Linked DNA regions of Homo sapiens. The protein of the gene in region 3 purifies or fractionates together with the protein of the main gene of each other region. This does not show direct contact. Each region holds a gene or a part of one and is shown on either strand. Other genes may lie near its edges.

Region 1 (3,500 bases), on a different chromosome or scaffold from region 3:
AGGCCCCAGGAGTCCCCATCTCCCAGGCAACACGACTTAGGCAGGACTACCGGGTGACAAAGGGGTCTACACAAGAAATGTAGGGCCAGAGGAGGGGTCAGACCTGGGCATGGGGACACTGGATGTGCAGTGGCCTCGTCAGGTCCTGGAACATTTCTCTTTCAAGTCCCTCCAACTGCATTTAGGACTTCAGATCACTTGCAAACTGCTACTCTCCTAGCTCCACTGACTGCCAATCAAAGGCCCAAGACCAAAAACAAACAAGACATTGTCTTTTAACCAGATCACTGTGTGCCCATCTCACCCTTGAGCAGAAGGGGAATGCTGTCTTGTACTCAGCACCTGCCCTGTGCCAGGCTCACCTAATCCACAACAGCCTGAGGCAGGCTCCACTGTACCCGCCTTTACTGATGAGGAAAGGGACACAGGGAGAGACCGCAGCAGGTTCCTGGAGAACAGGGCTGTGATCTGCTGCCCCTGCTTCCAGGGCAGAGTCCACACCTGGTCGTTGTCTGTGGGCAAGAGCATTACCCAGACCACCTGGATCTGTAACACAGTGCTGGGCTCAGGGCCCAACAACAGGAGAACAATGCTGGGGACGGGGTGGGAGAGATGAAAGGAGCAAGTGAGGCGTCCTCCAGAACAGTAACTGCTGGAGGGCACAAGCCCTCCGAGGGGAGCTGAGGCTCATCCGGAACCCCCGCAGACCCGAGTGCTCTCACCTGTAGTCCCGCAGCATGAGGCTGGTGTACCGCACGGTGTCGTCCATGCTGCAGCTGATGAGCTGCCCCGACTCATCCACGGTCATCCTGGACACCTGGTTCGTGTGGCCTTTCCCAGCGAAGGAGTCGTTCTCCCCCGTCTCTGAATCCCAGTAATGTAGGGTGGGGTTAAGGAAAAGCCCGGCTCCCAGGACTGCTGGGTGTTCTCAGGTGTGGCTTCAGTCCTAAGATTCTCCATTTACATCAAGAATGAGAATCTCGCCGCAAACGGACATAACCATTCCCCCTGGGAAGCCTGCAGTGTCCACTGTTGACACGTTCTTAGGAAGGGGTATCTGAAGTGTGGGTGCACCACACAGGGATTGGGATGAGGCAGAAAGGGAGCCGTGCTGAAGGCCTACTGGGGACCAGCAAGCTGGGGAGGCTCCGGCGTCTCCTCTGCTACTAGTTATCGGGTAGGCGCAACCCTCTAACCCCACATTTCTTTATGTTTTGGGGGCAGAGGGTGGCATGTCTGCCCTCCTCTCCCAGCCTGGGGGGACCTCCTTGGGTCCCGGACAGTCCCTTTGGGAGGTACAGCACATGCGGACCAGAGCTGTCCACACAAAAGGCAGTCTCCAACACAGCACGGTGCTCAGGGAGGGCAGCAGAACAACGCACAGCAGGTGCCATCATCAGCAACGTGTGTGGGCATCCCTGCCCAGGCACTCTGCAGATGGTGGCTCCAAGGTTCAAGACACACCCGTGAGCAGGGTGTCACCAGCCCCAGGCCATGCAGGAAAAACACAACAGAAGCCCCCATCATCAGGGAGAAACCAGGACTCATTTAAAGAAACCCAGACAAGGACTTATAAGGGGGACACAAACACCTCCAGGGAACATCACCGAAGGGCCACAAGGCACCTCGCAGGAGCTCCAGCCCTGGCTCTGTGGACCACAGGCTGCATGACTCTGGGGCGGGCACATCAGCTCTCTGGGCTCTGGTTTTCCTATTTTTAAAACAAGGGGACCCAACGTAAGGGTGTCCAGGTGCTTGTGAATTCTAGGAATCAAGAAACCCACCATGTGGAGTAGGGCCAAGGCTGGCGCCAGGTGCCATTGGCAGAGGTAGTGGCAGCCCAAGCTCAGGGCCGTTAAGCCACACTCTCAGGGTTGCACGACAAGAAGGGACTGATCAGGTCGGAGCCGCCCATGGCTTTTCCTCAGCATAAGCCCTGGAGTTGCCAAGGACAACTCCAGGGGACAGTTGCCTGTCCCCATGTACAGACAGGCCACCCCTAGAAGCCACACGGGTCAGAAGAGCGTGTGGCTGTGGCTGCAGCTGGAGCCACCTGGCTGGCCTGGCCTCTGGCATCATGGGAACAGGAAATTCCCCCCTAGAGCCAGCGGCTCCGGAGCCAGCTCTTTGAGTCAAAGGATATTAATGTGTCCGTCGTGGCTCCCAGAGTAAATGTAGGACTTGCCGCCGTTTTTATGCACCGTCAGACACTGGATCGATTTACTGTGACCCTGTGAAGGAGACACACTGGGCGGGTAAGCTGATGACACACTGCCCTGCCCTCTGCCACCCGCTTTCCACCAACGAAGCTTCTGGGTAATGGAGGGGGCAGACGCCCCTCAATCCATGGCAGTGCAGGTGCTCTGAGGCCCCAGTAGCCCCAGCTGCCCGAATGCACGGCCCACGAGCCCTAAGAAACCTTTCCAAAGCTACCCAGTCACCTACAGACCCTGCCCTTCATTCCCCTCCCTCCAAGGTACCTAACCCAGACCTGGGCCCAGACCTGCGTCTAACCAAGGCCCAGCACGTCAGCACCTGAGCACCTAACGTGTGCAGACACGTGGCCTGCACCCCGCCGACCAGCACCCGTCGCGGGGAGCCACAAGGGGGTCGGTCCAGGAGGACTTCGCTGGCCACATTCGCTTCAGGCCCTGGTTTGTGAGGTTTCTTCTCTCTCCCTGCCCAGGAGTGCTGGCCCTGCTGAGGGCAGGGGTCTCTCTGATCACTGTAAAAGCCCAAGGCTGTCCGTGAACGCTGACGCTCCTACCCTAACCTCCCTGACTGCTGCAGTGGAGGGCACACAAGGCTGGTCCACAACCAGACAGCTGCTTCCAGAGGGCGGCGTTTAGCCCCCTCCATATCTGAGCCTGAGACAAAAATAACAGCTAGGGTGCAGGCTCCTCATGCCTTTCTCCTGCAAAGGGAGGCCAGCTCCTGGCTGGCCCCTCTCCTCTGAGCTCAGGGCTTTTCCGCAGGAATTCTTGATCTCTGTGGTATGCCACATGTTGCCACAATATGGCATAGATCTTTGGATGCAGGTCTCCTTGGAGACAGGTACACAGTTACCAGTGGGACTGGAGAATGGGCAACGAATGCAGCTACTTTCATCTTTTCCACAGAGACGTGGGGAAAAATCATCACATGCCCCAGTAAGAGACACTGAGCTGGGCGGCCTCCTTCCAATGTGGCATCCCACCAGTCCCTTACAGCGCGGACCTCAGACCAGCACAGCCCCCACCAGCAGGGCTCAGGCCCACCTTCCTGCCAAATCAGAACGTGCACTCGGCAAGAGGCCAAGAGACTTGTGTGCAGGCTCAATGCCTTGAACTTACCAGAAACACTCCTAGCCATGCCCAGATGCCCACGGGTGTTCCTTCTGGAGGCCTGCAAGCTCCTGCTGCCCTGAGACTTCCCTGTAAACTTAGTGCCTCTGGGGGCGTCAGCAGCCAGCGCTTTTTAGAGCTCCCAGGTGGTTCTAACACGCAGCCTGGGCTGATACC
Region 2 (3,500 bases), on a different chromosome or scaffold from region 3:
GGAATCTACTACAGCTACATATAACAAGGAGACTCTCAGGAACAATGGTGAACAAAACAAGTAAAAAAAATGCAAAACTAATTTGCTGCTTAAGAACACAAGGGCTGTGCAATAAAAATATTCTAAAATGCAAGAAAATAAACACAAAATTCAGTGGTTACACCTAAGCAGGAATGCAGGGGATGGGTGGGAGTGGGGGCACTTCTAGACTTCCAAGGTTATGTTCTGGAAATAGCTCCAGTATCTTAAACTTTCTAAATTTCCATTCTGAATGGTTTGCTTCCAAATCTTACATAGGTAACCCACACAAACGCTTTCTAGAAATAGTTCCTCTGGTATGTCAGAAGTTAGGACTTCCTTCTTAATTATAAAGCACTGTAAGTCAGGGACCATCTGCAGTGATCTATGGAATGCCAACCTGGTACCAGGAGAAGACGGTCTGTAGTCACTGGCCAAAAATCTGGCCACCTACCCTGAGACAGTATGTGGCCAGAAAAGCCTAAGACATTTACTGTCTTGGACCCCTGGGACCGAAGCGCCCTTCCCACCTGTCATACCTGTCCTGTTGAGCCTCGCCATGTTCATCATCGCCTCCTGGTAGGCCAGCTCTACATCTTCTTGGGTGACCACTAGTTTAATCTTATTCCATTTCTCAGGCTGATAATAGAAATGTAGGTGAGGGAGAGAAAGAGAGGAAAATGTGATTAATCTTTACTTCTAGCAACTGAGAAAAACAGCAACTTTTTCTTATTTAACTTCTAGGGACTTTAATTCAGAAAACTGAATTTTCCAACTCTGGTTTTTCTGTGGATAGTATTTTAGGTGTCCATTAGACCTGTCAGCATGGCGTCTTTTCTGTTCTCATCCCACATTTCTGTAATTAAGTGCTGTGATTTATTGGGTATGTGTAGTCTAGCGGGACACACGGCGGCACTGCTGTACATGCAGTGTAGTGTCCTGCTAGTGGAGAAGGGCTCCCCCATCCGTGACACTCCCTGCCTCACCTGCTTCCAGCTCCCTGCTAGCTCAGGCCTGGGAGGTGGGGCTGGAAGGCACCTCTGCGCAACATCCCCGCAGTGGCCTTCTGCTCTGCTCCCCATCACAGGGGGAGGAGGGAAAAACTGCTAAAGAACGTGGCAGCCTTAGAGAATTTCTCTACCCTGCGACATCAAGCTAAGATATACCAGGTTGATGAAAGACGTGTAATTATTGATTATTCTCTTTCAACTGTTTCTCAGGACTGGTAGTTTCAGATGATAGTTGTAGAAATTAAATGCACCATGATATGTGAGAATATACCCCAATCTTATTAATTTGTGAGTTGTTACGGCAATGAAGAAAACCAATCTTAAAGTATGATTATAGCTCACTGGAAAAATGACTCACAAGACATATCCTCATTATAGATAGATTCATTCTGCACAAGAGAATTATTTATCAAAATGTTCTGAGTTACTCATCAGTTTAAAAAGACAAAACTACCAAACAAAAACAACCAAAAACTGCATAAAACAATTTAAACTGTCAATAACCCTGGTTTTATTTATACCCCAAACACTACGCCTTCCACCAATTCTCCTTCATATTATTTCTTAGTGATGTTTAAGACATGAAAGACGAAGCTATCTCAGGGCCAAGTAAACAAAGCTAACCCCCTGCCGAGCAAATTCTTTACAGAAAAATCTTAAAGCTCCAAGCTGGGGCTTACCTACTGCAATCAAGCATTCAATATGCAAAACTGTTATTTAAAGACTATGAACAATTCCTAGGATTTCTTTAAGGACTTGACTAATATTAACTCCCTGGATATGAAACTAAAAAACCTCATTTCCCAAATCCTCCAACAAAAATTACCTGCAAACGTACCATTCCCCTCCCTCCCATCACAGCAGTGGTTTACTCACGATATCCAGCCACTGGTGCACAGCCACTGCCACCTGTGTCCCCAGGGGTTTTGTCAGCACCAGCACGTCCCCTGGCACTGCATTGTCTGGCCTGAAGAAAAGAAAAGGGCATGTTCTAGTCAAACTAACCAAGGAGATGAGCTCATTGTTATTAACACAAGAGAAGGAATAATCTGTCAAAAATATATCTGCCTTTGCATTTACTTAAATTGAAGCCAACTACCAGCATGTATGGGACAGAGCCTTGCAACCTGCTACTGAGGCTATTGCTGGAACAAAACATTCAGCCATCAGGCTGGACACAGTGGCTCATTTCTGTAACCCCAGCACTTTGAGAGGTCAAGAGGGGAGGATCACTTGAGCCCAGGAGTTCAGGACCAGCCTGGGCAACACAACAAGGACCCCATTTCAAAAATAATATACATATTTTTAAAAAGAATGAAACATTTAGCCTTCAAACGTTTCATCAGGCCCAGATTTCCCCTCGACCACATACGAGTGTATGTGTAATTTTCACTACAGACCCACTAGCATTCAAAAGCTTCTGAAACAGAGAGTGCTTCTTTATGATCACTGATATGCTAGAGACTCAGGACGGATTTTTCGGCCCAGGGGTTTGGTGGATTTGCAGGCAATCTGTGGGTCTAATGTCTTGGTGATTTCTGCCTCCAGGTTCTCAAACTCAGACTGACTGATGGTGAGTTTCCTACCTGGCACCCAGACGCCTTGGTGGTCCCTGTCTTAGAGACAGAAGGCAATACTAAAAAGGCACCTCTAAAAGATGACAACTGGTGCCCGAATGAAACATCTACCAGACTTGCATTCACACTACCAGGAAGCAGGTCTGAGAGTTGTGCCTTTCGCAGCTTCAGCAGCTGAGCTCCTGAATCGTTCCATTCCCCGATGCTGGCCTCCTCAGGTACTCACCCAAGTCGATGAAAACAAAGCCAGGGCCACAGACTTCAATACCAACACCCAGCTCCCCAGCTCAACCTATACCATTTGTATCCACTCTCAGCTTTGAAAAATAGAATTCTGTGACTACGCAAGAAACTTGTTTTCCAAAAACCAGACCTGAAGACATAAATGTCTTCGAATTCAGACTCAGTTGTACCATAAAGTTGATGTTCTTTTTTTTTAAATTTTTTAAAATTATACTTTAAGTTCTAGGGTACATGTACACAACATGCAGGTTTGATACATAGGTATACATGTGCCATGTTGGTTTGCTGTACCCATCAACCCGTCCTTTACATTAGGTATATCTCCTAATGCTATCCCTCCCCCAGCCCCCTACCCCCGACAGGCCCTGGTGTGTGATGTTACCCGCCCTGTGTCCAAGTGTTCTCATTGTTCAACTCCCACCTATGAGTGAGAACATGCGGCGTTTGGTTTTCTGTCCTTTTGATAGTTTGCTTAGAATGATGGTTTCCAGCTTCATCCATCTCCCTGCAAAGTACATGAACTCATCCTTTTTTACGGCTGCGTAGTATTCCACGGTGTGTATGTGCCACATTTTCTTAATCCAGTCTATCATTGATGGACATTTGAGTTGGTTCCAAGTCTTAGCTATTGTGAATAGTGCTGCAATAAACA
Region 3 (3,500 bases):
CAAAATGAAGCACAAGTAACCAACCCGAAAGGAATAGACATTTACAACAGCCTGACAAAGACTTGAAAACAGTCATCTTACAGAAGCTCAGTCAGCTACTAGAGAATATGGATAGACAACTAAGTCATGTCAGGAAAACAATACATGAACAAAATGAGTAGTTTAATATACACAGACAACATAATAAAGAAGAAAGCAGAAATTCTAAAATTAACAACAACACAATATCTGAACTAAGAAAATTCCACAGAGAATGTCAACAGCAGAGTTGATTAATCGGAAGAAAGAATCAGTGAGCTTGAAAACAGATCATTTGAAATTACCAAGTCACAGGAAGAAAAAAAAAATAAAGAATGAAAAAGAGGGAAGAAAGCCAACAGTACCAACGGTTACTGTGAAGCAAAACAATATATGCATTATGGTGGTCCAAGGAGCATCAGAGAAAGTGAAAGGAACAGAAAGTGTAATTAAAGAAATAATTAAAGAAAATGTCCCAAAACAGGATGGGAATGGACATCCACATTCATGAAGCCCAAAAAACCCCTAACAGATAAATATGAAGAGATCTTCACCAAGACACATCTTAAACAAATTCCCAAACATCAAAGGCAAAGAGAATTTTGAAACCAGCAAGAGACAAGCAATGTACAAAGGAACCCCTATAAAACTACCAAAGGCTTCTCAGCAGAAAACCTACAGGCCAGGAGAGAGTGGAATCATACAAAGTACAGAAAGGAAAAATTCCTTGCCAACCAAGAATACTACACCTGGCAAGCCTGTCCTTTAGAAATGCAGAGCAGTAAAGACTTTATCAGACAAAGAAAAAAAAAAACGGGGGGAGTTCATCTTTAGCATGTATTGCCTTACAAGAAATGTTAAAGAGAGTTATTCAATCTGAAAGAACAGAACACTAACTGGATACACAAAACCATGCGAAAATATAAAACTAGGTGGTTAAATACATGGTCAAGTTCAGAATATTCTAATACAATCATAATAGTGTACAAATTACTTACATCATTACTATAAAAGTTAAAAGCCCAATGTATTTTTTTAAATGATACTTAATACAATTTGTTAAGGAATACACAACATAAAAAGACGTAAATAATGACAAAACATAAAATAAGGCAGGAGAAGAAAAGGTGTCAAGTTTTTTATGAGATCAAAGATAAATTGTTATCAGTGTAAAATAAAGTTAGACATGAACCTAACTTACAAATTCAGTAGTGTTTTTATACACTGACAAGAAACTATCTGAAAAATCCCATTTATAATAGCTACAAAAAAAATGCTTAGGAATAAATTTAACCAAGGTGGTGGCTGTATTTTTTTCTAATTTGGTCTTGAGGTTTCTCTCTGTAGAGTGGCTATAAATTCTAGCCTTGCCCTGGGGGGGATCCAGGAGATTTCATCATGGATGTTCACAGGAAACTTATTTGTCCCGGTGGACTGTCTAATGCCTAATTGGGTGTTCATCTTGTACATGTCCCTTCCACAAGACAATTACTTTTACTAGCAGTAGACCTGGTGGCTCTTGTCTGACCTATGTCCAGTTTTAAGTTATCTCTACTCTTTAGGAGACAGCCACTCTTTAAGAGAGCCAAGATGGAGAAGGATGTTAGGTTCAGATGTGTCAATTAGGGAAAACACAGAGGAAGCAACACAACAAAACACAGGAAACACAGAAGTGGTGTATTACTTACAGACTCCAGAGAGAAGAGGATAGCACACTTTGCAGCACTTACGGGAAGTGGGGAGCTATCCAGTCCGAGGACACTAACCGGTGTGTGGGGAGCAAGAGACAGAGAGAGAGGACCCGTGGGACTACACCTTTATAAAGATCCATGGGCATTATACCCCAGGCTTTCCCACAGGGATTGTGGAAGACAACACCTGCAAAGAAGGTTCACACTGCTCTGCTGTGAACCATTAGGTTTTATTGTAGTCAGCTCCTGTGGGATGTGTTGGGTTTGGGGTCAGGGAGATGATGAACAAATGTGCTAGATCAAAAACAATTGAACAGGGAAAGGAATTATTAATTGGGCAAAAGATGCTGTGGTATGATTGGGTTTTAAACAACTTACATTGGGCCTAAAAATGGATGTCAAGGCAGCAACTCTTTTAAATAAATTTGTGACAGAGGTGGAAGATGTGAAAACTGTAAAATATTGATGAAAGAAACGGAAAGTAACAAAAATAAATGGAAAGACAGTACATGTTCATGGATTAGAAAACTCAATATTGCTTAATTGTTCATATGACCCAAAGTGATCTACAGATTCAATGCAATGCCTATTAAAATTCCAATGACATTTTTTACCAAAATAGACAAAATAAATCTAAAATGTGTATGGAACCACAAAAGACCTCAAATAGCCAAAGTGATCTTAAGCAAAACAAACAAAAAGAACAATGATGGAGGCATCATACTACCTGATTCTTAAATATATTACAAAGGTATAGTAATCAAAACTGAATAGTAATGGCATAAACGAAGATAAACTGATGGAATGAAATAGTGAACCCAGATATAAATCAATGCATTTACAGTCAACTGATTGTGACAGATACCAAGAACACAAAATGGGGAAAGGACAGCCTCTTCAATAAATGATGTAGAGGAAAGTAGATATTGACCTGCAGAAGAATGAAATAAGACCCTTATCTCACATCATATGTAAAAATCAACTCAACATGGACTAAAGATTAAACATAAGCCCTGAAATTGTAAAACTACTACAAGAAAACATAGGGGAAAATCTTCATGACGTTGGTGTGGGCATTGATTTCTTGGCTATGACCCCAAAAGCACAGGCAACAAAAGCAAAAATAGACAGATGAGATTATATCAGACTAGAAAGGTTTTGCACAACAAAGGAAACAATGAACAGAGTGACGAGACAACATACAGGATGAGAGATCAATATCCAAAAGATCCAAGATTTTGGTTAACATCCAAAATACACAGGAACTCAAACATCTCAATAGTATGCAATCAAATAATCCAATTAAAACGGACGCATGGGCAAGGGACCTGAAGAGACACTTCTAAAAAGAAGACATAGAAGTGGCCGACAGGTATATGAAAAAAATGCTCAACATCACTAATCAGGGAAATGCAAATCAAAACCACAATGAAATACCACTTCACACCTGTAAAAATGGCTATTACCAAAAAGACAAAAGATAACAAGTGTTGATGATGATGGGGAGAAAAAGGAACACTGGTACACTGTTGGTGGGAATGGAGATTAGTACATCCATTATGGAAAACAGTATGGAGGTTCCTCAAAAAACAAAACATAGAATAACTATATGATCCAGCAATCCCAGTATTGTGTATACATCCAAAGGAAATGACATCAGTATGTTAAAGAGGTATCTTCCCTCCCATGTGCATTGGAGCATTATTTACAATGGTCAAGACATTAATCAACCTAAGTGTCCATCGATGATGAAAAGGTAAAGAAAATGTAGTACATAGACACAATGGAATA
Region 4 (3,500 bases), on a different chromosome or scaffold from region 3:
AGAGCGGCAGGCCGGTTACAGAGCCTCCGACCAGCCCCCAGGCACGCGTGTACATCCGTGTACACGCGTGCTCACAAGGGTAACAGGCAGAGCCCCACACTGCCACGCTCGGGGTACAGAGAGGCCGACACTGGATTCACCAGTTTGGTTTGTTTTGGTTCATGTACCCTCCCCAAGATGGAGAAGGCCAACGCTCGGATGAAGCAGCTTAAACGCCAGCTGGAGGAAGCAGAAGAAGAAGCGACGCGTGCCAACGCATCTCGGCGTAAACTCCAGCGGGAACTGGATGATGCCACCGAGGCCAACGAGGGCCTGAGCCGCGAGGTCAGCACCCTGAAGAACCGGCTGAGGTGAGCAGGCATGCGGCCCCGAGCTGACAGGCAGCTGCTTTGTGGGTTAGCTTAGGCTCGGGGTGCAGCTGGTCAGAGGAAGTTTACTTAGATCCATACCCAGTGACCCATTCTTTCTCCCGAACCACTTCATTTAAGATTTCTGACCTTTATAGTCGTCCTTGGGGAGAATAAAAGAGGAGGCGGCCCTATTCATTGCCAGTCACTAGAGGACCACACTAATCCACCACACCAGGCTGGAGCTGGGTCAGGCATCCATCCCTGTCCAGATATCCATTAGTGAAGTGAGCTCCCAGCCTCTCTTAAAAAGCAGGGCAGGAGCTCCTCCTGGGACCTGGTGCCATCAGCCCTCCTCAGCACCGTCCTCCTCACCACAATGGATCTGCTCTGTACCAGTGAGAGGGCAGAGCGTGAGAGAGCTACAGCTGAAGTCTCTGCCCCAGAAGACCAGGTCGGCGGAGGTTTCAGCACATCTGGCCAATGGGCAGATTTGGTGCATACCCTGCTTTTATACAGCCATCAAACTAAGCATGGTTTCTACATTTTTAAATGGTTATAAAAACGCCGAAACAAAGAATATGCAACAGAGTCCCTATGTGGCCCACTTTGCTATCTGGCTGATTCCCTGGTTAGCAGGTAGAGCTTGGCCTTAATCCGTCTTCCTTACCATTTCCATCACACAGTCCTAGGCTGAATCAAGTCCTCCCCAGTTCTCCAAGGACCCTGCTTCGCGTACTCTGCAGGCAGGGTTGTGGGAGAGGCAGAAAAGCACGCAGTCCTTCCCCATCGTACCGCCACCCCCACAAGGTCGTGTGTCCGAGGAGGGGGTGCAAGGGGAAGGTTCCGTGGCATTGAGTGGTTGAACATATTGACAGCCATGTGCTCCTGTCTGTTTACCCACACACATCTGCTTCCTGTGTTCTCCAGGCGGGGTGGCCCCATCAGCTTCTCTTCCAGCCGATCTGGCCGGCGCCAGCTGCACCTTGAAGGAGCTTCCCTGGAGCTCTCCGACGATGACACAGAAAGTAAGACCAGTGATGTCAACGAGACGCAGCCACCCCAGTCAGAGTAAAGTTGCAGGAAGCCAGAGGAGGCAATACAGTGGGACAGTTAGGAATGCACCCGGGGCCTCCTGCAGATTTCGGAAATTGGCAAGCTACGGGATTCCTTCCTGAAAGATCAACTGTGTCTTAAGGCTCTCCAGCCTATGCATACTGTATCCTGCTTCAGACTTAGGTACAATTGCTCCCCTTTTTATATATAGACACACACAGGACACATATATTAAACAGATTGTTTCATCATTGCATCTATTTTCCATATAGTCATCAAGAGACCATTTTATAAAACATGGTAAGACCCTTTTTAAAACAAACTCCAGGCCCTTGGTTGCGGGTCGCTGGGTTATTGGGGCAGCGCCGTGGTCGTCACTCAGTCGCTCTGCATGCTCTCTGTCATACAGACAGGTAACCTAGTTCTGTGTTCACGTGGCCCCCGACTCCTCAGCCACATCAAGTCTCCTAGACCACTGTGGACTCTAAACTGCACTTGTCTCTCTCATTTCCTTCAAATAATGATCAATGCTATTTCAGTGAGCAAACTGTGAAAGGGGCTTTGGAAAGAGTAGGAGGGGTGGGCTGGATCGGAAGCAACACCCATTTGGGGTTACCATGTCCATCCCCCAAGGGGGGCCCTGCCCCTCGAGTCGATGGTGTCCCGCATCTACTCATGTGAACTGGCCTTGGCGAGGGCTGGTCTGTGCATAGAAGGGATAGTGGCCACACTGCAGCTGAGGCCCCAGGTGGCAGCCATGGATCATGTAGACTTCCAGATGGTCTCCCGAACCGCCTGGCTCTGCCGGCGCCCTCCTCACGTCAGGAGCAAGCAGCCGTGGACCCCTAAGCCGAGCTGGTGGAAGGCCCCTCCCCATCGCCAGCCGGGCCCTCATGCTGACCTTGCAAATTCAGCCGCTGCTTTGAGCCCAAAATGGGAATATTGGTTTTGTGTCCGAGGCTTGTTCCAAGTTTGTCAATGAGGTTTATGGAGCCTCCAGAACAGATGCCATCTTCCTGAATGTTGACATGCCAGTGGGTGTGACTCCTTCATTTTTCCTTCTCCCTTCCCTTTGGACAGTGTTACAGTGAACACTTAGCATCCTGTTTTTGGTTGGTAGTTAAGCAAACTGACATTACGGAAAGTGCCTTAGACACTACAGTACTAAGACAATGTTGAATATATCATTCGCCTCTATAACAATTTAATGTATTCAGTTTTGACTGTGCTTCATATCATGTACCTCTCTAGTCAAAGTGGTATTACAGACATTCAGTGACAATGAATCAGTGTTAATTCTAAATCCTTGATCCTCTGCAATGTGCTTGAAAACACAAACCTTTTGGGTTAAAAGCTTTAACATCTATTAGGAAGAATTTGTCCTGTGGGTTTGGAATCTTGGATTTTCCCCCTTTATGAACTGTACTGGCTGTTGACCACCAGACACCTGACCGCAAATATCTTTTCTTGTATTCCCATATTTCTAGACAATGATTTTTGTAAGACAATAAATTTATTCATTATAGATATTTGCGCCTGCTCTGTTTACTTGAAGAAAAAAGCACCCGTGGAGAATAAAGAGACCTCAATAAACAAGAATAATCATGTGAACGTGGAATCTGTTTTCTCACCTTCTGTTCTCGATTTCCCATCTGTGATCTGACTGGAGGGTGGGTGCTACACACCAACTTCAAATGATGGCGCCAGGCCCTTTTTGCTGAGGGCGCTGTCTCCCAGGTCAGACGACAGAATAATTCTCAGGCCAGTCCTGGCTCCAACTCTTGTTCCTGCCAGTGCCTCACAGGATGCACACGCACTAGGAAGGGAAAGACCACCCAAAGGCAGGAGCTGGCCCACCTGTCAAGGGAGTGATTTAGGAGGGCTCTGGTCACCAGCCAATGAAGCTCACTGCTGGGTTAGGACATTTTCAGGGGTCCAGGACATTTCAGGCTGCATTTTCAGGCAGACACGCATTGAAGATGCTTTTGGAGGATTCAGTGATGAGGCCAAGGGCAGCCTCTCTAGTGCGGGCCAACTAGGATGAGAGAAATACTAGGGCAGCACAGAATCAAACAGAGAATGCCGATTTCTTGTTCC
Region 5 (3,500 bases), on a different chromosome or scaffold from region 3:
TTGAAGGTGTTTATTTTTCAACTTAACTTCCCACATTTTCTGTTTTTTTTTGTTTGTTTGTTTGTTTTTCTGTTTTTCTTTTGAGATGGGGTCTCACTCGGTAGCCCAGGCTTGGAGTGCAATGGCGCAATCTCGGCTCACTGTAACCTCCGCCTCCCAGGCTCAAGCAATCCTCCCACCTCAGCCTCTTGGGTAGCTGGGACTACAAGCCCGTGCCACCGTGCTTGGCTAAGTTTTTGTATTTTAGTAGAGACGGGGTTTCACCATGTTGGCTAGGCTGGTCTCCTGGCCTGAAGTGATCCACCCACCTCGGCCTCCCAAAGTGTTGGGATGACAGATGTGAGCCACCGTGCCAGGCCATTTTTTGTGTTATTCATGGCATGCTACTTAAATGTATAGATTATCTCTTCCACTATGCAGTTTCCCAGACCTGCGTGTTGTCCTCCTTTAGACTGCAATTATGAGGAGGAAAAACTTGATTTTTTATGAGGTTTTTTACACGAAACCTCCCATTATGGGCAATCACAAAACTAAAAATGAGGTATGGTAAGCCAATGGACTCTGTAACAATTACCACTGAAGACCAAAATTCTACTCAGTAGTTAGTTAAAAAGGGGAAAAACACCACCCAATTAATGGCTTTAACGGGCTACCTTGCACAATATTTGAGGTAAGAAATAGAAGAAAGTATCACATGGGCTGGGCGCGGTGGCTCATGCCTGTAATCCCAGCACTCTGGGAGGCCAAGGCGGGCGGATCACAAGGTCAGGAATTCTAGACCAGCCTGACCAACATGGTGAAACCCCATTTCTACTAAAAATACAAAAATTAGCCAGGCGTGGTGGTACGCGCCTGTAATCCCAGCTACTCAGGAGGCTGAGGCACGAGAATCACTTGAACCCGGAGGCAGAGGTTGCAGTGGGCTGAGATCACGCCATTGCATTCCAGCCTGGGCGACAGAGCGAGACTCCATCTCAAAACAAAACAAAACAAAACGGGCCGGGCGCGGTGGCTCACGCCTGTAATCCCAGCACTTTGGGAGGCCGAGGCGGGCGGATCACGAGGTCAGGAGATCGAGACCACGGTGAAACCCCGTCTCTACTAAAAATACAAAAAAACTAGCTGGGCACAGTGGCGGGCGCCTGTAGTCCCAGCTACTCGGGAGGCTGAGGCAGGAGAATGGCCTGAACCCGGGAGGAGGAGCTTGCAGTGAGCCGAGATCACGGCCGCTGCACCACTCCAGCCTGGGCGACAAAGCAAGACTCCGTCTTTAAAACAAAACAAAACAGAACAAAACAAAAGAAGAAGAAGAAAGTATCACATGTAGGTTTTTATTCTATTGTTATCAACCTAGTCTCTTATTTTTCATTATAATATGTCTGGCTTTATTTTTCCTTTGCTTGTAAAAATTGGATGGGTGCAGAACTTTTACAGACAAAGAAAAATGTGGCAAGACTTACGTGATGAGAACCCTGCCATTTCTGTAAACTCTTGTTAAAGCTTTAGTGTTTCTATGATACACTGCTGCAGTACTTTGAATTTATATAGCACCTGTCTGCTTAAAAGCCAAGGCTTCACGTTTCTCACTTATCCTTTTACCATGCCTGTGAAATATGTAGATTGGAATCACATGGCTTAAAAATAAAGTGAAACCCAGATATGACCACAGAAAATTTCAATGAGTTACTTAAGATCATCTATCTGTCCAGACTGCAAAGGACTAAAAGACCCTAAATTCTATGCTCAATGCTTTTCCAATAAACAACACTACCTCCTTATTATCAAATACGTTTCTAAACTTTTAAGAAAATGTAAGGTTTCTCATATTATAAAATCAGTAGGCTTAATGCACCAAAAATCCCTGTCAAGGAATTAAATAAATGGCACCTCTTTATTTTAAAGAACTAACATTAGTCATGGAATAACCCACTGGTGATCACTTTCCTGAATAGTCATCAATTTGCCAACAAAGTATTTAGCTTGGATCAATGCAATTGCATCAAAGTTTGAAAAGTCAACTGATAAGTGAAATAAGCCAGATTATGAATATTTGAAAAAATAAAACCCAGCAAACCAAAAAGCTTGAGCAATCCTCTCTTTTTATAAACAAAAGCATGAATGGTGTCTGGCACATGTATGTACTCAATTAGTTATTAATATAATAATTTTAAATGACTTTCCGAAGGTCAAATTATGAGTCAATGGCAGAGCACTATCTAGAATCTAATTCCTCTGAGGGCAAGTTCAATGATTTACTTAAGATAATCTATCTGTCCAGACTGCAAAGGACTAAAAGACCCATGCTAAAATAATTAGTATTTTCATTTTTGTATACTAACAATACTTCTTCATCCCTAAAACAGTTTATACTCACTAATATTTATCTTCCAAGTGTCAAGACTAAGGCAAAATTTGGTATTATTAAATTTATCGTGAATCTTCTGAAATTGTCTCACCTCCGTAACTAAAATAAATTGGCCCAAGTATGATCAGATCTTCTAAGACTGACATTTCACGATTAGACTGTTTCCATAACTTTAACCAAAGCGCTCTCATAACTAAAATCAGCTAGTCATGACCACTGGTATATAAAAATCTTCCAACATTGTAATGTATCCAAAAAGCTTTGAAACCTCCAACACACTGAATATACATTATATGGTATATCACTGTCTAAAATAATACAGACTCAAAACATGACCCAGCTGACTTCTTCTAAATGAGTTGTATTATTTTCACAGATCAAAAATTTTGCCTTCTGGATCACTCTTCACCAAAAGAAAAATTGCCATATGACCAAAGACAACATGATTCTAAAAACAGATACCCCATTGTTGTCATGTATTGAGAGATATTCATTTTCAAATTTTATTTTATACCAGCTACTTTCATAATCTGTACCAAACATCAAAAAAGAAACAGTTCAGCTTATACATTCCACATAGATTATGCTAGATCAAACACAACAGCAAACTCATGAATTTATCATATGTGCTAAGAACACTGTCAGTACATTTCATGAAAATCCAAGTAGAAATAATGCCTAAAACAGAATATGGGATAATGGCAAATGGACTTTCTTCTTGTACCCTCTCAGTGTCACCAAAAAGAACCACTTTGGTGCTCAAGCACCATGGCCAAGCTGCCCTTTTATTTTCAGTAACAGAATTCTGTTCTCCTGGGAGAAAAATCTCATTGGGTTTCTGATAGTGCCCTAGATACTGACATTCTGCCAGTATAAACAGTCACAGTCAAAGTCTAATGTGCGTGTAACCACTTGTGGAAGAGGCTTAATCTCACCCAAATTATTACTCACTAGTTATAATTAATCCTTCTACCCAAAATGCCATAAGCCTAGTCATTTTTATCAATTGAATCTAAATGGTTACATCAGACTAGAGACTTTGGACTTCAATGTTGATCGTCTGTATTAAGTCAAGGCAAAGTGTTATTTATTTATTAATAGCTCCCCACCTCAGGTAAAGGGGTTGCTATCTGCT
Region 6 (3,500 bases), on a different chromosome or scaffold from region 3:
TTTTACTCGTGGTCCTTCTGTGTTTTCTCAACATTTTCATTCTCTTTTGTGACCTTTTCCATTTTTCAGGGCATTACTTACCTATCTGATGATGTTTCTCCCAGATATGGACCATCTACTACACATCCACCTGCTTGAACTATAGGTACTTCAGAGCCAACACAGCTCAAATTGGACCCCTCCTTCTTCTTTCATCTGTTCCTCTTGTGTTCCCTATTTTCGTGAATGTTGCTGTTTCTACCTGCCTTCCAGAAAGATCCTGGATATCTACATATTTGTTTTCCCATTCATCTCTCACTCCCTTCACCCCCCATTTATTGATTGCACAAATGATTAAGCCCTGTTAGATCTGCTTCATTTGGAATGCATCCCTTTTCCTCCAGCCCCTTCATCATTCCCTAGTCTCCCTGATAATTTGATCATGTCATTTTCCTGCTTACACTTAAGCATTGTGGTGGCTCCCATTGGGTCCAGAAGGAGATCCAGACTCTTTAGCACAGGTGCTTTATGAGCTGGAGTTGCCTCTGGAGCGTCAACTCTTCTGAGTTCCCTCCCATGGCATCCTGCGTTCTAGCCGTACCAGACTACTACTTTGAAGTGCTCTACAGCAGGGCTTCTCAAACTCTAGTGAGCATGATTGCCTGGGGCTCTCGTTAAACTGCAGATTCTGATTTTGTAGGTCTAGTGCTTGTCTGTGGATCTGTAAGGCTTTGATGGGCCATGTTGTATATTTCCTTGCCTTTGAGTGTAATGTTGACTCTTGGAATGTGTCTCCCCTTCCCCCTTAGTCAGGTGTCCCCCATCTCTGTTGAACCTTAACTTGACTGCCTCTCCCATTTGACTGGCTCCTTTCTTGTGCCTCCTCTTAGACCGTGTATCACTAAAGCACCCATTAACACTATGACGTGCACTCACCAACACTCTGGAGCTGGCTGTAAGTTGCTTGAAGGCAGATACTGTGTCTTACTCCTTTTGCTTTCCCTGGTGTTTAACTTTGTGGCATATAGTAGGTGTCAAATGTTTGTTGAGTGAATCAATGAAAATCTTAAGACATTGAAGAAGGAATATGGTAAACTGGAGGAGATTGAAGGGATGCTTAACCCACCCATGCAGTGCAGTGTGTCTACACAAATTCACCCTGAGCTTGATTTCCAGGAATGTCCTATTTGAGGACAAATGAGTATTAGTGAGTGAAATTATTAGACATTAGTAATCTGTTTTCAAAATTGTAGCACCAAGAAGTATATCCTTTTACTTTGTAATATGTGGTCTTGCTCTTCATTTTCCCATCTCAGTACATCTATTTTTCAAATAGATGCTTTCTGGAAAACCAGCTTTTACTCTGTTCTCTTTGAGGTGATAAATACTCTTGCTTTGTCACATACATTTTCCTTGCATTTCTGGATCAGAGCTGCTTTGTGTGTGTATTCTTTGTGTGATGGTTTTTAGCATAATACTTGTATACTTCAGAGGAAAGATAAGCTTTGAGCTCAATCTGTTTGGAAGTAGATCTAGACTAATGATTGGCCTAAAGGTGAAAATTACATATTGTTCTTTGATGGGATGGTGTGATTTTTATTTCTAAAGTTGGAAGAAAACTTTTAGAAAACTCTCATTTTAGAAAAATCTTCTGCAAATATTAAGAATCTGATGGGTCCGGCTGGGTACTATTGTTCACACCCATAATCCCAGCACTTTGGGAGGCCGAGGCGGGCAGATCACTTGAGGTCAGGAGTTTGAGACCAGCCTGGCCAACATGGTGAAATTCTGTCTCTTACTAAAAATACAAAAACAAAATTAGCAATGGTGGCGGGCGCCTGTAGTCCCAGCTACTCGGGAGGCTGAGGTGGGAGAATGGCATGAACCTGGGAGGCGGAGCTTGTAGTGAGCAGAGATCAGGCCACTGCACTCCAGCCTCAGTGACAGAGTGAGACCCCATCTCAAAAAAAAAAAAAAATAAAAGTATCTATACATAAGTTAGCCAGGCGTGGTGGCCCATGCCTGTAATCCCAGCTACTTGGGAGGCTGAGGCAGGAGAATTGCTTGAACCCGGGAGGTGGAGGTTGCAGTGAGCCGAGATCACGCCATTGCACTCCAGCCTGGGCTACGAAGCGAGACTCCATCTCAATTAAAAAAAAAAAAAAAAAGAACCTGATGGGTCCTTTGGGGTTCTGAAATCTGTAACATTCGGCCTCTGCTCTGTGAGTGTAGATTTATCAATCACAGGGCTAGACAGGCACATGTACAACTATTAGACGTGCTGTCCATAAGAGAAGAATATAATATTGTGGTATTTCAGAGAGAGGAGCAGTGCCATTTGTTTTATGGCAGGGGGACATTGAGTTTTAGAGGACACATGGTAGTGGATATTCAGAATGTTCCAAAAATAGAGAAGAGCGTGAAGAGACTTGGAGGCCGTTTATCCCGTGTAGCTGTGTGGGATGTGGTGGAAGTTGATTTCTTGAGGCTACCAAGATTGCTTAGAAGGTAGGTTAGTTGATGATTGGAAGCCGTTGGAGGATTTTAAGTACAGATTTTGACAAAGTTTATGTAGATTATAGGAACGTGGGGATGGAACAACACTGGTATTGCAAATTAGCAGTAATAGGCCTTCAACGAGGTAGTAAAGAACTGACGAAAAGATCCGTTTCTTGAGAGAAAGAGAACAGAAGATTGGTGAGAGTGTTAGCAGAATTAAGAAAAGTAGATTTGGGGATTAGGGTAAACAATGGTACCTTTAGAATAGATGCTGATTACTTTCTTTTTTTTTTGAGATGGAGTCTCGCTCTGCCACCCAGGCTGGAGTGTAACGGGGCCATCTCGGCTCACTGCAACCTCTGCCTCCCAGGTTCAAGCGATTCTCCCACCTCAGCCTCCCAAGTAGCTGGGACGACAGGCGCATGCCACCATGCCTGGCTAATTTTTGTATTTTTAGTAGAGATGGGGTTTTGCCATTGCCATGTTGGCCAGGCTGGTCTCGAAATCCTGACCTCAGGTGATCCACCACCTCAGCCTCCCAAAGTGCTGGGATTAAAGGCATGAGCCACCGCACCTGGCCTGATGTTTATTATTTTCAAAGTGTGTTTGTAAACATAACATCATACAAACATTTCAACTTCCGTGGGTTATTACAAATTAGGAAACAGGGTTAGAAGTATAATTTATTCAAGACCTCAAGTTGAGATTCAACTCCAGATACCGTGATTCCCGTTTCTGAAATGTTTTACATATGTTGCAACATATGTTACAAGTGTTTTACATATGTTACACATTTGATCTTGTCATTTTCCTGTTTACAGTTAACTGCCATGGTAGTTATCATTGGGTGCAGAATGAGGTCCAGACTGTTGTGTTTTAGATGGTGAAGGGATTACTTATGGACAAAAACATTTTTTAAAAGGCAATATATGATATAAACTTGGGATTTAAAGACTTTCACAGGTAAGTAAACATAGAAGATCTCAGAATGTATCTGGAAGGGATCTTCATAGATTCTGAAG
Region 7 (3,500 bases), on a different chromosome or scaffold from region 3:
TTGAGCCACCTGCTGCAGGGGACAGACCCCGCTGTGAACCAGAGGTTGGAGGAGGCCTTGGGACTGGCTGGGTGGGCCAGTGGGAAAGGGGAACCTTGGGAACCAAGCTCTGCTTCTGCCCGGAGGAGGGAGGTGGGCCAAGGAGGCCTGAGGCACTCTAGGCAACACCCTGGAGCAAGAGGGCTCTGGGGAGGATAGAGCAGAGGGCACTTGAGGACCAGGCGCTTCCTGGGACAGGCTCTCCCCAAGCTTCCAAGACTAGCTCTTGACCCCAAGACTGAAGCTGCACCTGGCTCTTTCTCTACCACAGGGGCCCTCTCCTCCCCTCAACACAGGCAACTGTGATCTTTTCAAGACAGTGAGACGTTAAAAAGAACACTGAACTTGGGATAAATTACCCAGCAAACAGAACGTTCCCGGCCTGGGAGATGTGAGGGGATGGGGGTAGCAGAGGGACGGCAGCAACAGACAGGACTTGTCTGAAGGTCGCGCTGTCAGGAAGTTGCTGAGCCAGGATTCAAACGCAGGTCTGACTGTAGCCTAGACTGTCCGCTCCTTGCCGTGCAGGCATGCAAGTAGGGTGAGGAGTGGTAGGACTTGGGGACCTCCCCTTACCCTGCCCAGTGTCTAGCTGTGTAGCCCTAGGAAATGAGGCTGGTGCCTGGTTGGGCTCAGAGGGGACATGGCTGCCCTCCTGCTCCTGCAGGAAAAGGCCCTCAACCCGGCTGCATGCTCAGCAGTCCAAGCCTCCAGGCCTCCCTGCCGCAGGGCCAAGGCAGGGGCAGCAGGAAGAGGCTGGGACAGCTAGCCACGGAGCTGTCAGCATGACTCAGCACTTCCACATGCCAGCAGGCCAGGAGCACTCCCTGCAGCCTCTCCTGCCTCATACTGCTCTTCTGTGGCCTCCACCACAGGAGGTGGTGCCCCTGTGGGGTACCATGGCCAGAAGGACAAAGCCTCAGGCCCACACTTCAGAGGCCCTATCCTGTCCCAGCCTTGCCTCCTCTTTCCCCTGTAGGTTTTGAGGGGGCCCAGAGACCCTGCAGGGACTCTGGTCTGGCACAGCAGCTCCAGAAAGGGGCCACATGATGGGGCTGAGCCAGAGAAGCCAACTCGACTTCCCAGAAAGGGATTCCAGGGAAGGCAACTGGCTGCCACCCCAAGCCCACACCCACTTCCAGGGAAGTCGAACCGAGGCTAGCACTGGAGGCCCAGCACAGCTTTGGCTTCGAGACTAGGGACAAGGCTAAGCCCTACAGGGCCATCAGGCTCAGGTCAGAGGGCGTGCTGAGGTCCCGAGGAGATGCCAAGGAAGGGGTTGTGAACAGGGAAGGGGCCTACAGGAGCCTGGGCTAACCCTGAGGCTTGGTATTGCCTGAGCTGTTAGAGTTAGGGGTGGGGGGCTGCAAACATCCATTCATGAACTAATTTGAAGAGAGGGAACCCTAAACAGAAGGTCGACATTTGTTGTAGAACGATTTGGAAACTACCTTACGTGTCCAACAACAAAGGACTGGCTAGATGGATTATAGCATCTCCATAAAACAGAATATTATGTGATCATTAAAACCAGCTCTCAGGATGTGTGCAGTGGCTCACGCCTGTAATCCCAGCACTCTGGGAGGCTGAAGTAGGGAGATGACCTGAGGTCAGGAGTTTGAGACTGACCATCCTGGCCAACGTCATGAAACCCCGTCTCTACTAAATATATAAAAATTAGCTGAGTGTGGTGGTGCGCGTCTGTAATCCCAGCTACTCGGGAAGCTGAGGCAGGAGAATTACTTGAACCCAGGAGGCGGAGGTTGCAGTGAGCTAAGATGGCACCACTGCACTCCAGCCTGGGTGACAGAGCAAGACTCCATCTCAAAAAAACAAAACAAAACAAAAAAAACCAGCTCTCCACTGTTAATATCAGGAGAAAAAGCTCATGATAGAAGGCTTGGTTTAAAGTGTAATACTAGATTTTATATTATACACACACACACACACACACACACACACACACACACACACTGGGATTACAGATTTGTAAGCTTTTCTCATGATAACATGGACAAAATACATCATTAGATTTAAATTGGGGGTGGGAGGCAGTGTGCTAAGAATAAGGAAAACATTGGTTGGGTGCAGTGGCTCATGCCTGTAATCCCAGCACTTTGGGAGGCCGAGGTGGGCAGATCACAAGGTCAGGAGATTGAGACCATCCTGGCTAACATGGTGAAAGCCCGTCTCTACTAAAAATACAAAAAATTAGCCAGGCGTGGTGGCACGTACCTGTAGTCCCAGCTACTCGGGAGGCTGAGGCAGGAGGAGAATCACTTGAACCCGGGAGGCGGAGGTTGCAGTGGGCCGAGATCGTACCACTGCACTCCAGCCTGGGTGACAGAGCGAGACTCCATCTCAGAAAAAATAAAAATAAAAAAATAAGGAAAACGTTCATTTCTTAATATCATTCTGTACTTTTTAAACAGGAGGGCAGGGAGAAACAGTGAGTGGAGACCAGTTTGCTCTATCAAGACGCTACCTCCGGGTGCCTGGCCTGACATGATAATCCCTGGATGCCCTGGCCCCTTCCCCCAGGTACAGTCAGGGGCCTAGGCTCCAGGCAACCCTGGCCCCAAGCCACCCTGGCTTCTGGGAACCCAGCTAAACTCCTTCTCCCTACACTGACTTGTTCCATTATGTTAGGGTCAGGAAATGCCCCTTCACAGGGAATTATTTCCAGCAACTGTAGGGAATAATTAACTCACATCTCTGGTTCTCTGCCAAATAAAATGCTCTTAAACATGCATCTCATTCTTTGTGTGTCTCTCTCTCTTTACTTCATGGTGAATCACTTCTGGGTGTAGCCAAGCCTGCCCCAAGGCTCACCAAGGAATGAAAGCAAACTGTGGTCAGGTGACACTGGCCTGAAGGGGTCTGGAAGGGACTGTGAGGCCTCCTTGGAGAGCCAGTCCTGGGGAAGGGCCTGCACACAGAAGGTGCTCCCTGCAGCCTCCTGTCCTTCAAGGACCCACAGTCTTCCCGAACCCCACTATGGCACTTCTGCTGCAGGAGTGGAGGACAGGGCAGTGGAGATGCCATCAGCTGCAGAACTGGGCCCTTCTCACACCCTGCGGGCTGGCCCCACTGGCCTTCCTCCTCTAGGAGGCTTCCCGCCCACAGGACTCCCCGAGCTCCTGTGGTGCCCTCAGCCTCTCCAAGAGCAGCCTGGGTACCTCCACCACCAACTGGATGGCCTAGGCCAGCATCTTGCCTCAGCTTCCTCACCTGTAAGACGGGTCACGGTTCTCACACCACTACCCAACTCACAGGGGGCTTTTAAAGGTGGAACCCAATACAGCACATGAGCACTGAGCACAGGGCCTAGCCCCCAAAGGGCAAAGGAACCCTTCTGATGAGTGACTGACATGGTTAGGCTCTGGGTCCCCACCCAAATCTTACCTTGTAGCTCCCGTAATTCCTACTGGTTGTGGGAGGGGCCCAGCAGGAGATAACTG

What was found.
Region 1: the proteins of TNFRSF10D (region 3) and WDR1 purify together in Homo sapiens (co-immunoprecipitation; one large-scale study listed by IntAct). This does not show direct contact.
Region 2: the proteins of TNFRSF10D (region 3) and SEPHS1 purify together in Homo sapiens (co-immunoprecipitation; one large-scale study listed by IntAct). This does not show direct contact.
Region 4: the proteins of TNFRSF10D (region 3) and MYH10 purify together in Homo sapiens (affinity purification with mass spectrometry; one large-scale study listed by BioGRID and IntAct). This does not show direct contact.
Region 5: the proteins of TNFRSF10D (region 3) and PLS3 purify together in Homo sapiens (co-immunoprecipitation; one large-scale study listed by IntAct). This does not show direct contact.
Region 6: the proteins of TNFRSF10D (region 3) and LRPPRC purify together in Homo sapiens (affinity purification with mass spectrometry; one large-scale study listed by BioGRID and IntAct). This does not show direct contact.
Region 7: the proteins of TNFRSF10D (region 3) and TKT purify together in Homo sapiens (co-immunoprecipitation; one large-scale study listed by IntAct). This does not show direct contact.

The regions. Positions count from the first base shown.
Region 1 is NC_000004.12:10,082,300-10,085,799, forward strand, and holds part of WDR1 (WD repeat-containing protein 1), read right to left. Parts: intron 2,232-3,500; coding exon 2,144-2,231; intron 880-2,143; coding exon 723-879; intron 1-722.
Region 2 is NC_000010.11:13,327,794-13,331,293, forward strand, and holds part of SEPHS1 (selenide, water dikinase 1), read right to left. Parts: intron 1,996-3,500; coding exon 1,905-1,995; intron 658-1,904; coding exon 558-657; intron 1-557. UniProt on the Homo sapiens protein: Synthesizes selenophosphate from selenide and ATP.
Region 3 is NC_000008.11:23,150,528-23,154,027, forward strand, and holds part of TNFRSF10D (tumor necrosis factor receptor superfamily member 10D precursor), read right to left. Parts: intron 1-3,500. UniProt on the Homo sapiens protein: Receptor for the cytotoxic ligand TRAIL. Contains a truncated death domain and hence is not capable of inducing apoptosis but protects against TRAIL-mediated apoptosis. Reports are contradictory with regards to its ability to induce the NF-kappa-B pathway.
Region 4 is NC_000017.11:8,473,726-8,477,225, reverse strand, and holds the end of MYH10 (myosin-10), read left to right. Parts: intron 1-177; coding exon 178-350; intron 351-1,277; coding exon 1,278-1,422; 3' UTR 1,423-3,002; downstream 3,003-3,500. UniProt on the Homo sapiens protein: Cellular myosin that appears to play a role in cytokinesis, cell shape, and specialized functions such as secretion and capping. Involved with LARP6 in the stabilization of type I collagen mRNAs for CO1A1 and CO1A2.
Region 5 is NC_000023.11:115,564,174-115,567,673, reverse strand, and holds part of PLS3 (plastin-3), read right to left. Parts: intron 1-3,500. UniProt on the Homo sapiens protein: Actin-bundling protein.
Region 6 is NC_000002.12:43,989,490-43,992,989, reverse strand, and holds part of LRPPRC (leucine-rich PPR motif-containing protein, mitochondrial precursor), read left to right. Parts: intron 1-3,500. UniProt on the Homo sapiens protein: May play a role in RNA metabolism in both nuclei and mitochondria. In the nucleus binds to HNRPA1-associated poly(A) mRNAs and is part of nmRNP complexes at late stages of mRNA maturation which are possibly associated with nuclear mRNA export.
Region 7 is NC_000003.12:53,235,523-53,239,022, forward strand, and holds part of TKT (transketolase), read right to left. Parts: intron 2,299-3,500; coding exon of another isoform or gene 2,275-2,298; intron 1-2,274. UniProt on the Homo sapiens protein: Catalyzes the transfer of a two-carbon ketol group from a ketose donor to an aldose acceptor, via a covalent intermediate with the cofactor thiamine pyrophosphate.